Linked DNA regions of Homo sapiens. The protein of the gene in region 1 purifies or fractionates together with the protein of each later gene. This does not show direct contact. Each region holds a gene or a part of one and is shown on either strand. Other genes may lie near its edges.

Region 1 (3,651 bases):
TTTACTAGAATGTTCCTTTGATTACTCCCACAACAATAAGAAAAATAAGATCTGAAAATTCAAGTTTTAGTGCTCATTTTAGTATTTGTTTGTTGTTTTGTTTGAGACATAGGTATTAAAGAATAAAAACCACTCAAAAAATCAAAGGCAGACCAGAGATTCATGAAGAAACACAACTAAGCACATACACACCCAAAGGTTAAAAAAATATTTAAAATATATTTGTATTCCTAAAATAAGTAGGTAAATACTGAAGTGAACTGGAATAAAGAAAGAGTCAAAAATTACATGCACACAGAGTAGAGGAGCTTTTAAACATATTAGGCCAAGGCTCTACCATGGTATCATAAGAGCTATTTTTAATAAATATTAATATGTAAATGTGTTTTAAAATCATCAGCTATCAGAGGCACCTTAATACAGATAAAACGTCTGCCATAAATATTAATACATCAATGTATTCTGAAAGCATCATCATGCAGAGATGTGAGTGCTGATAGCTTAATGTTCAGGTAATCATATAAACTTGTAAACTACACTCTTTAGGAAATTATAAAGCTATCACACAAAAATGTAAACATTTAACATTCATATTTCAACAGAAATAGCAGCAAATCAGGATTAAAAACTCTATGGGTAATCTCACTTTCAGGCCAAATATTTTCCAATAAATGAGCAATCATTAACATGCTTTGCCATCTCAATTAATCTTCTCCAGTAGCAAGTTAAGCATAAGGCTACCACTTAAGGAAATATGATTTAGCAAAGCTTTTTCTTTGTAAATGGTTCCCTATTCAATCTGTAAAGAACATTCTTTATTTTCACATTTTGCAGAAAAGTCCCTTTTGAATATTTAAGTAGATCACATTATAAATCAACACTGACATTTTCATATTTTATCAATTATGAAAATGAAAAATCCAGAGTTTAAAAAAAAAAGCAAATATAACCTTAAGTGATCTCATATTTGTTAGGAAGATCCTGAGTAAAACTGGCACAGCTAATCTTAATTGATAGATTCTTCCAAAATCCCTCTATGAAACACCTGGAAGATTATCAAGAAAAAAGTTTTCAAGTAGACACTGTACTCTGAGATAAGCACTATCTATATTTGAAGGGAGAATACTGACAATTGGTACCTAAAAAAGTTATAAATTTTTGTAAAGTAGAAATAGATCTAATAAAAAGATATATTTGTGTGAAATGTGTAAATATATATGTCAAAGATAAGCACTATCTATATTTGAAGGGAGAATACTGACAATTGGTACCCAAAAAAGTTACAAATTTTTGTAAAGTAGAAATATATCTAATAAAAAGATATATTTGTGTGAAATGTGTAAATATATATGTGTAATATGCACAAAGACACACACATGTGCATCTGGAAGTCATGACTGTGGATTATTACTACCAATAACTGAGAAAATTAAAAGTAGATCTATTTTGTCCATTACTGTTGCTAAGAGCAAATTTCTTAATTTCAAAATTATATTCATAATTTACCTTAACATACCAAAGCAAAGAAGAAAAGCGAAACACAAATCAAGTACAGTACTTAGAAAACATACACCTTGTAACCTTTAGCATTTGTTACATGATAGATATTATAGAAATTCATTTAAAAATTCCATTGCAATTGAATAAAAAAACCCATCTCCATTTACCTGAGAGCAAAAGGATATCTCCTTAAAATTTTTCTCCAATGCTATTTTTTTGGTGTCAGGACTGATGAGGTAAACTTCAGACTGGCCAATCTTAAAAGACAAACAAAAAAATCTAGCTTTTCAAACTTTCTCATTTCATGACCTATGAAAATAAAGAATAAAAGGGACAAGCTCCTATAAAATTCTGACTCTATCATCGTAGAAATCATTTCAAAGGTCCCCTCTTATCCTCTGGATTTCAGGTCATAAGACACATCTATTAGTGCCTTCACCTAGATAAGACAGCCATCTTCCTTGAGATGAAAGAACCAGATATCCAAAAGTTAGCAATAGGCCTCAAGATCCACACATCCCCCTAAAAACTGAGGTCTCCGCATAAGTGAACCTTCCAGAAAACAGAATCTACTCTTTCAAAGCTTCCAAGATACTTTTGAATGATTTTTACTGACAAGTCTTTTTAAATTATTGTTAAAAGAATCTACCATTTGTTTAGTACATATTACATGTGAGGCATTCACATACACTAGTGACCGGACCTTTTCAAGTTAGAGTATGAGCATCAATTACAATCCTCTTACTGCCTTGGGACATGCTAATAGACATGCATTATAGGAGACTGCTGTGTTGCAATACCCAACCTACTCTGTGTGCACACGCCCCTGCAGGCTGTGAAAGGCTGCCTTTTAGACTCCTCGTCTCTGGAGCGCTAAGCTTCTTGGGTTTCAGTGTGTGTTGGTTTCTACAGCTTTAGTTTCTCCTCAGGACCAAGAAGTCAGTGGTCACATCCTGACGCTGCCATTCTTAACTCCCAGACCCATCTCCTCCTCTAAACTCTTTACGCTTTGATGTAAAATACAAATCAGATACACAAGCTTGTTGGAAACTGGGGTGTAAGTCAAGGGGAATTATACTCTCAATGAGGGGGCCCAAGAAACGTGCATTCTGTTTGGGGCAAGGACTTTGCATTCTGAATTGTTTTTGCACACTTACTGTTTCTGAACTGTATTTCAGCCAGCAGAGAGTGGCAGGTAGCCTTTTACTCTTGTCCTTCTGTGGAGACCAAGGATGATGAAAAACTAATTCATTTTTAACATGCAACATCTTTCTAAACTAGACTGTGTCTCTCTCTAGAGTAGGAGCCAACACAATATCCTCCTTATTTGTAAACAACGAATAAGTATCTATTTGGAGTATGTTTAGTCTCTTTAGAAGTCACTGTCTTTACCTACATAATGAAGATAGTCCTTACTTATTTTTAAAAATAACCTTTGAAAATCTCATAAGGTGAGAGGCTCCAAGGCATTATTACTTAGCTATGGCTGGGTTGTAAAGAGCAAGTCAGAATCCAAAGTTGGGTGGGGCTCCTGAGATCCCTCTCCTTCCCCATGGCATCCAAAGGATTGTACATCCCATTAATTTGACTTTCTGCATGTCTGTCCCTTCCACTCCCACTGCACTTACCACAACCCCACTATCTCTCACCTGGACTACTACAACAGCTTCACTCCCCTCCCCATCCTACTCTTGCCCTCCCCCAAGTATCCTGGCTCTGTAGCCAAAGATATTTCACACTGTGTTTTATAGCATGCAGTGACTGCCCACTCCTTTCAGGATAAAAAACAAAACCCTGACCAAGACCCATAAAGTTGTGCCTGATGAAAACAACTTTCATGGGGCTGCCTCCAGTCCCAGCCCCATCTCTACGCACCATCCTTCCTTGTTTTCAGTGCGGCCATCTGGAATTATTTCTCACCCAACAGCTGTGCTCTAGGCACTACCAACGACAGCAGTGAACAGAGAAATGAAAATCCATGCCCTCTTGAAGCCTATCTTCTTGGGGGCATGTGGGACATAAAATCTTTTACTTGTTTATTTGTAATTGTGTCAAATGGTAAAAATGCCATGGAGAAAAATAAAGCAAAAAAGCAGGAAGTGAGGCTGCTATTGGTCTTACTGATACGATTATTCCTCCATGTCAACATTT
Region 2 (3,651 bases), on another chromosome or scaffold:
GATGAGCTACAGAAGCTGCTGCCTTCACTGGCAAGGGGCTTGCTCTGACCATCCTGCTGACCAGGGACACTCAAACCTGCCTCAGAGAAGAGACCGGCACCATTCCCAGGGGAGGGGGCACCCCGATCCCGGCCACAGCAAATTCGTGAATGCCCAGTGTGCACTGGGGTAAAAAGGTCATTCAGATAGAAGTAAATTCACGGAGATCTGAATATTCTTTCTAATGATTGTGCCTCTGTTGCTGTTGTTTTAATAAAGAAAATTTTCCTAAGAAGATACAGCATTTCCTAAGAGAATGAAAGCGCAGTGGGAGAAAATAGATTTGCTATTCATAAGATTAGAAGTGCTGTTGATCTGTGGGAGATTATAAGAGACTATTTTCTCCACAGCTTAGCATTCGTCTTTTCACGCTGATATCATGAATCAGAATGAAATGTAAAACTGAGAATTAAGCAAACATTTAGAAGAAGGAGATTGTTCTGTTTATAGAAATCTCCTCTGCCTAGCTGTGGGCTATTAAGGCAGCAGACTACATTAGCAGTCAAGCACCTAAAAGTTTAGCAATCATATGATTAACAAGTTGAAAATAGAAAAGTATAACAAGGAAAATAGAGAGGGAGAAGGCAGTGACCTATATTATAACTAATTACCAAAACAGGAATGCTAACATCAAAAACTGTGGGTGTGGACTCAACAGTTTCGGCATCAGGGCCACCTGCTCGCTGTAGGTGGGGTGGCCACCCGTGACCCAACAGACTCACCTCCTCCATCCTGGTCACCCTGATGTCCGGGCTGGCTGACTGCACCATGATGCGGGGCACGGGCTGAGGAGGCAAGTGTGCAGGTCAGGGGTCGAGAGGACAGAACAGGGGTAGCAGAAAGGTTTCCGCTGCACAGGCTGGAGGGCCAGGACCTGCCCGAGGGGAATCGGCCCATCAGGTGTGCGAGTGTGAGGGGCTCCACACCCTCCAAGGAACAAGGGACCCAGCAAGGGGCTCCTCCCCCAGCCAGGGAAACAGGCCACATGCCAAGATCACCAACACACATGGTGCACTTACACACACGACGCTCTCTCCCTCCCTCCAATCACATATGCACATGTGAACCGAGGACTGGGCCTGTACAGACAAGCATTATGAGACAGGAAAGATACAGAAAGACTTCCGGCAGGAGGTGAAAGCCATGCCAGGCTCTGATGGCTGGGGAGAGGAAGGAGTGTAGTCACAGGAGGGGAGGAGGAAGGAGGCCAGGCTGGCTGGAGCACAAACCCAGAGCCCAAGATGGCAGGCACAGGTCTGCAGAAGGCCCTGGGCATCGGAAACTAACCCTACTCAGGAGAGGAAGGGGGTCCCCACTGAGTCCTGAGCAAAGCAAGAAGACAGCTGAAGGCCAGAGACACTGTCCGGGTGGGGACACAACATGACCGGAAGAATATTTAAAGTCCAAAGAGGCAGATCAGTAATGCAACTCCAGTGACAGAGCAGGGGGAGGAGGTAAGAGCCACAGGAAAGGGCCTGGTTACTTGTGGACACATGGGCCAGGGAACATTAAAGAGACAGAGTTAAGAATCATCAGAGCCAGGAAAAGGGAAGCCTCGGGGAGAGAAGGAACCAGAGCATCATTCTGTTGCTGCGGAGTGGCTGTGGGACACAGAAGCAGCCGAGCAGATGTGCTCATCCCAGAAGAAGCTGGGAACATGCCACTTCTGCCCCTCCCCCTCCCCCTACCCGACTGCAGGAACCAGGCCTGGCCTCCCATGCTGGGCTCTCATGAGGGCTCCATTCTGCCAGGACAGCCGCGGGTAGGGCTTCTTTCTTGTTGGGTCCACAGGGCACAGCTGGTGGCTGCTCGGTTACTGAACTTTAACTGCCCAGAGATGTGGACTCCACGTCTCCCACCTCCCTTCTCCCAGCCCTCGGCAGTCCTGGTGCTTTGGCTCTTGTGCGTCTGGGCACTTGAGGCCTCGATGGAGTCAGGCCTTCTAGACAGAGCCTGCAGGCGCGAGCCACACCGCCCAGGCCTTCCTTCCTACTGGGGAGCCTGGACTCCAGCTGTAGGGAGAAGAGTCCCGAAGAAGCCAGCCCGCTCAGCAGGGTGCTCACCATGTTTACAAGCATGGAATAGCCTCGCTTCACCTGAGGGCACCACTATGACCACTCGTGCCTTGGGGCTGCTTTTGGAAGAAAAGTATAAGAGGGAATTGATTCCACAGAAGGTAAGGGGGCACTGGCAGGATTTGAGAAAAGGTGCAGTGGAGAGGACTCGAGAGGAAACGCAGCGATCAGGCTTAAAGACCTGGAAGGACTGGAGCCAGATGTGGTGGTGCACACCTGCAGTCCCAGCTCCTCAGGAGGCTGAGGCAGGAGAATCACTTAAGCCCAGGAGTTGGAGGCTGCAGTGAGCTATGATCACACCACCACACTCCACCCTGGGCAACAAAGCAAGACCCTGTGTCAAAGAAGAAAAAAAGAAAATAAGGTGGAAGGACCAAGGAAATGAACAAAAGGAATGTGTACTTTACACTGCAACCACTAGGGAGTTCCTGGGGTGGTCTGAGGCCCAGGACAGCTAGGACCAGGGTGCATTAAAGATTATGTGAGCAGCCAATGGGACAGAATGAGGGAGGGTCCCCTGGTGGCAGTTAGGCCATTGCACATGACAAGGCCTGAAGAACAAGACCTTCAGCCTCCACCTCAATTCCTTGACCAGAACAGTCTCCCCTCTGCGCCCCTCCCAGCACTCAGCTCCTTCTGTCCCACTACTGCTCTCCACGGCCCCGCCTACCGCCATCTCCCAGAGAAGAAAGTGAGGCTCAAGCACGCGTCCCACACTGCCACGCAGTCCTCGCATGCCAGGGCTCGTATCTTCATTTTTCTGCCTATAGTATTTAACGTCCCCACAAATGGGAAGGTGTTCAAGGGTATATTTCATGACAAAAGCAGAAAAAACATTTCTCAAACTCCAAAATACTTGCATTCTTCACTACATCTTACCTAAAGTGGACAAGATTGGGGAACAACTGTTTCCACAAAGGTGAAGTTTATTCCCCTTAAAGCCTAAAAATGCAAATACCCCAAGGATGGGATGTTAAGCGCCTAACATGAAACCTTTTCTAAAATCACATGATTCCTGCCCTCTGAAATAGAACATGCAAACAAGTTACACTTTCCTTCAGGACCCAGTGTGATTAGAAAAACCCAGTAGATAGATGCTTATTAAATATTTGCTGAAATGGATTCAGGGACTCGACTGACTGCCACTTTGGTTCTCACTCTCCATGTAAAAAAGTTCAGCTCAACAGAGACTGCACCAGGTCCTACCATGCGGGGGGCGTGGCACCAGGTGCCTCAGGCAACATCAGCATCAGAGGCATGGGCTTTGCTCTCAACAGATGGGCAACCTGATTGGTGGGGAACACATAAGCAAATCACTAAAATCAAGGAAGGTGACAGTGGAGTGGAAGCTTCAAAAGCAGAGAGGAGGCCAGGCACGGTGGTTCACGCCTATAATCCCAGCAGTTTGGGAGGCCGCAGCAGGAGGATCACCTGAGGTCAGGAGTTTGGGACCAGCCTGGCCAACATGGTGAAACCGTGTCTCTACTAAAATCCAAAAAAAAAAAAAAAAAATTAGCAGGGCATGGTGGCAGATGCC
Region 3 (3,651 bases), on another chromosome or scaffold:
AAGCTAATGGTCTACACATTCTCATGCTTCTTTTCAAGCTTCCTGGAGTCTGGGGATACTCATCGAAGAATAAATGGATCTGGAAAGGTCCCAGGTCTCATGCACGAGGAGGACCTGGTAAGACTAGAAACCTGTTTGGCAAGCCAGGGAAGTGCAGTATCATATCCATGTGCAAAATAAGCTAAGACTCCCTTCCGCAGGGGATGCAGGTCTGCAAACAATATGATGCATTTAGGGAAATGCTTTTCTTCCTTAATTGGAATCTAGACTATATTATTTCTGAGAACGGACATCTGAATGATACATATCATAACCAGTAATTACCTGTACTCTGCATTGGTATATGGCAATCTTGAGGTGACTAAACTGAAGAGAGTTACAGCTTACTTTTTGCCTTTTGGTTAGATATAAAATGTCACATTCCAATCCTGTGGAAGACCTCCAGGAGTACTGATCTTGGCTGAGTAACTCAGAACTTAGGAGATATTGTGCTGGAAATGACGTACTGTAGGGACTGCTTGACTGGGGAAGAGAATATGGAAAGGGGTTTCCGCAAAACACAGGAGTAAAGATTCACCCATGCAGGTTTGAAGGGAGATACTTCTTTTTCAGAGCAGGGAGATCAAAGGAAAGTGGGTCAAGCCTTACCTTTTCTGTCCCTTGGAGTCCCTGGTCCTAGAGAGTCTTGGCCCTGCGGTTGCCCGGAGCCCACCTCGTCGAAACTCTGCCATCCCCAGCGTGTCAGTGTAGAAATTTCCTGACTGAGTTCTTCGGATTCTGCATGGAGAAGAATCCATGGAGACGGTCATGGAATAGTCAGAAAGCCTACAGTCACTGTGCTTCCTCTTTTGCAAGGCCATGCAGGCCAGCACAGGGACTCTCGGCAGCACTGCTTCTCCGTACCTTCCCAGAGATCAAGGATCACAACCTGTCGCAGCTCCTTGGCCAGACTCAAGCCTCAATTCGGATCCTGCCTCTGGGATTTGGTCACTTGCCATAGAAGTCAAAGCAAAGTTTGATGCCTTGTAGGAGGCCCCAGTTTCTGCCTCATGTCACAAAGTGGATCAGTTGGGCCAGCAAGTACTTGGCTTTCAAAGGTTTTTCAAAGATTTCTTAAAACAGACTGACTCCTAAGAAGGGAGAATACAGTCTCATCTGTGTCTGTGCCAGATCCAATGTAATATAAGCTGCAGAGATTATGTTCAGGGTGTGTGGAATGGGTGGGTGCTTAGGATGCATGACATGAAAGGCAACTGGATATATTCAATGGGTGTCTTTCATACTTCTCCTTCTCTTGGCCCTGGAAAATATCTCAGATTCTTCTCTTTGAACATGAACACTCTGTTTTGACTGCTGTTTCAGTGTCTATTGGACCAGGGGCTTACATAGACTCTTTGCCCAATCAAAAAGAAAAATTCTAAGCAATATAATTAGGATCAACGGCACCAACTTACTTTCCCCAGAACTTCTTAATGCCTTTGGGATTCCGTTTACCATCTGGTGTCAGAGGAGACTGAGGACCTGATTCAGTGCCCGATGATGTGGATGAGAGGTCATTGACCACAGCAGTGTCGTCCCAGCCACTTTCTGTGTCTCCTGAGATTGGAAGAAGGCAATGAATGTGAATGTAAGGATGTGACCCCTGGAACCCTTCTTCCCCAAGCCTGGGCCCTCCCCTTCAGTGGGAGTCCAGAGAATCTGCCCAGTTCTGCCTTCAGGGCAGAACTCCATACCAAGATCCCAGAGACTAGTGGGGACTCCAGGCTTCCTTGCTGAGAAATTAGTGTGCTCAATATTTCAAATCTAGGTGAGCTAATGTCTTTAATTTTAAGGATTTGGGGTCCAAAGTACTTGTGGATTATTCCAACAAGCAGCTTCTTTTTCCTCAGAGGGAGATGCAGGAACGCAGGCAGTAGTGGGTCCCTGGCTGAGTGCTGGTGAAGGGGAGGGTTAGGGTAGGGAAACAAAGGCATTCTCACTCTCCACCTCACCTGGAATGGGTACAGTACCTAATACGGGGGCACTGACACTCCGGCCACGATCTCCAGTGAACCAAGAAGCAGAGAAGCCACATGAAGAAACAAGAGAGGCCAAAGTCCAGCCCAACAGAGTTACGGGGAAGCAAAGAAATAAACAAAAGAGTGTCATCGAGCAAGAGAGAAAAACTCAAACAGAAAGAAAAATAATCCCATGGAGAAGGAGGGGGTGAGTGGTGACTGACACTGAGAAGAGGTTTCATGTGAGGGGACCAAGTGTTCCTGGGGCCCCTTTGTGACAGGCTGAGGTGTCCACACCCAGGGAAAGGAAGGGACAGCAGCAGGGGCTGAATACTCCAGGCCACAGGCAGCTCTTGTGCAGGTGCCTGGGCTCACTCAGCTCAGACTAGAACAATCTGAAGCCATAGTGAGTCCAGTTTGAGTGTCACTAGAACACACTCATTCAAGGGTTTATCTGAAGTTCCTGCAGCCAACGGCAGAGCTGGCCTTCACTAGGCCAATGCATGGGCCAGCTCAGGGAAGAGCTGAGGCTGAGGAGCCTCAGGAAGAACCCTGCCAGGACCAGAATGTTCCCTTCCGGGGCCATTGAATCTTTTGCTGCTGGTGGGGAAAGATGGCTTATTTTGAATGAAAAGCAGCAAAAGCCTCTGTGGTTTCAGGTCTTACGCACCGAAAGGATACCTGCAGACCGACACCCTTGCCCATTGGCCACTGACTTCATTTGCCTAAGGAAATGCTCCCACTTGGAGTGCATGATACCCTCCTACGGGGAATAGGGAAGCTGCAGAGAAGAAGGTGGAGACAGGAGAGAGAAGATCAGAATGACAGAGGAAGGAAGCACCAGGGGCAGGAAGGGTAGAAGGGGGTGTCTGAGAGGAGGGAAAACAATGCTAGGAAGGACAGGAAAGAGTTCGAGAGGAGGAAGAGAAGAAGAGAGGAAATAAGGGTGAAAAGCTGCAGCCGAAAAGAAGTAGGGGATACACACACCCTGGTTTGCTGAGACTGTAGAGTGCTGACCTTAGAAAACAGCTCGCCCAGGGGGAGCCTCTGGGGAGGTGGGACCACCCCAAGGTACAACTTGTTCCAGCCACCCACCCCACCATTCTCCAATTGTGGATTGTGGTGGTAGGTGCAGGGATCTTATACAATCATTGAAAGTGCCAAGGACACTGCTCAGAGGCCACCAGCACCAGGGCTGGACACTCACTCAGCCTCAGCAGGCTGCTCCCCGTGGCGTCAGGCTGGCAGATGGTGGGAGGAGATTTGGCAGCCTCTCCATTGGGCGTGGCTCCTGAAAGCTTCCCAGGTAAAGTGGGATATTTGTGCTCCGCCAAGAAAGGGCTGTCCTATTGGAAGGTGAGAGAAAGAGAGAGATACCGACTTAACTGTCAGCCTCAGTTAGGAAATCCTTGGATACAGAACAACTCCCTGTTTTGCAAGAGCCATTTTTCACATATGGTGACTTGAACACCCCTCAAAGATTATTTAGCTAGTCCGAGAAAGGGGACCAGAGTTCCAAGGAAGGAAGAAACTTTCCCAAGGCCACACAGTAAGACAGGGACAGAGTCAAGTGCAAATCTGGGGCTGACTGAAACTGACTCTAACAGGAAGTGAAGCTGTCTTGCAAAGCGGCCTTTGCTGTCTGGCCTAGTGC

The links.
Region 2: the proteins of TBC1D1 (region 1) and KIF13B purify together in Homo sapiens (affinity purification with mass spectrometry, with the first as the bait; one large-scale study listed by BioGRID). This does not show direct contact.
Region 3: the proteins of TBC1D1 (region 1) and PPFIBP2 purify together in Homo sapiens (co-immunoprecipitation; one large-scale study listed by IntAct). This does not show direct contact.

What each region holds. Positions count from the first base shown.
Region 1 is NC_000004.12:38,016,460-38,020,110, reverse strand, and holds part of TBC1D1 (TBC1 domain family member 1), read right to left. Parts: intron 2,718-3,651; coding exon of another isoform or gene 2,658-2,717; intron 1,758-2,657; coding exon 1,668-1,757; intron 1-1,667. UniProt on the Homo sapiens protein: May act as a GTPase-activating protein for Rab family protein(s). May play a role in the cell cycle and differentiation of various tissues.
Region 2 is NC_000008.11:29,074,520-29,078,170, forward strand, and holds part of KIF13B (kinesin-like protein KIF13B), read right to left. Parts: intron 825-3,651; coding exon 762-824; intron 1-761. UniProt on the Homo sapiens protein: Involved in reorganization of the cortical cytoskeleton. Regulates axon formation by promoting the formation of extra axons. May be functionally important for the intracellular trafficking of MAGUKs and associated protein complexes.
Region 3 is NC_000011.10:7,639,424-7,643,074, reverse strand, and holds part of PPFIBP2 (liprin-beta-2), read right to left. Parts: intron 3,344-3,651; coding exon 3,205-3,343; intron 2,043-3,204; coding exon of another isoform or gene 2,010-2,042; intron 1,597-2,009; coding exon 1,455-1,596; intron 778-1,454; coding exon 649-777; intron 1-648. UniProt on the Homo sapiens protein: May regulate the disassembly of focal adhesions. Did not bind receptor-like tyrosine phosphatases type 2A.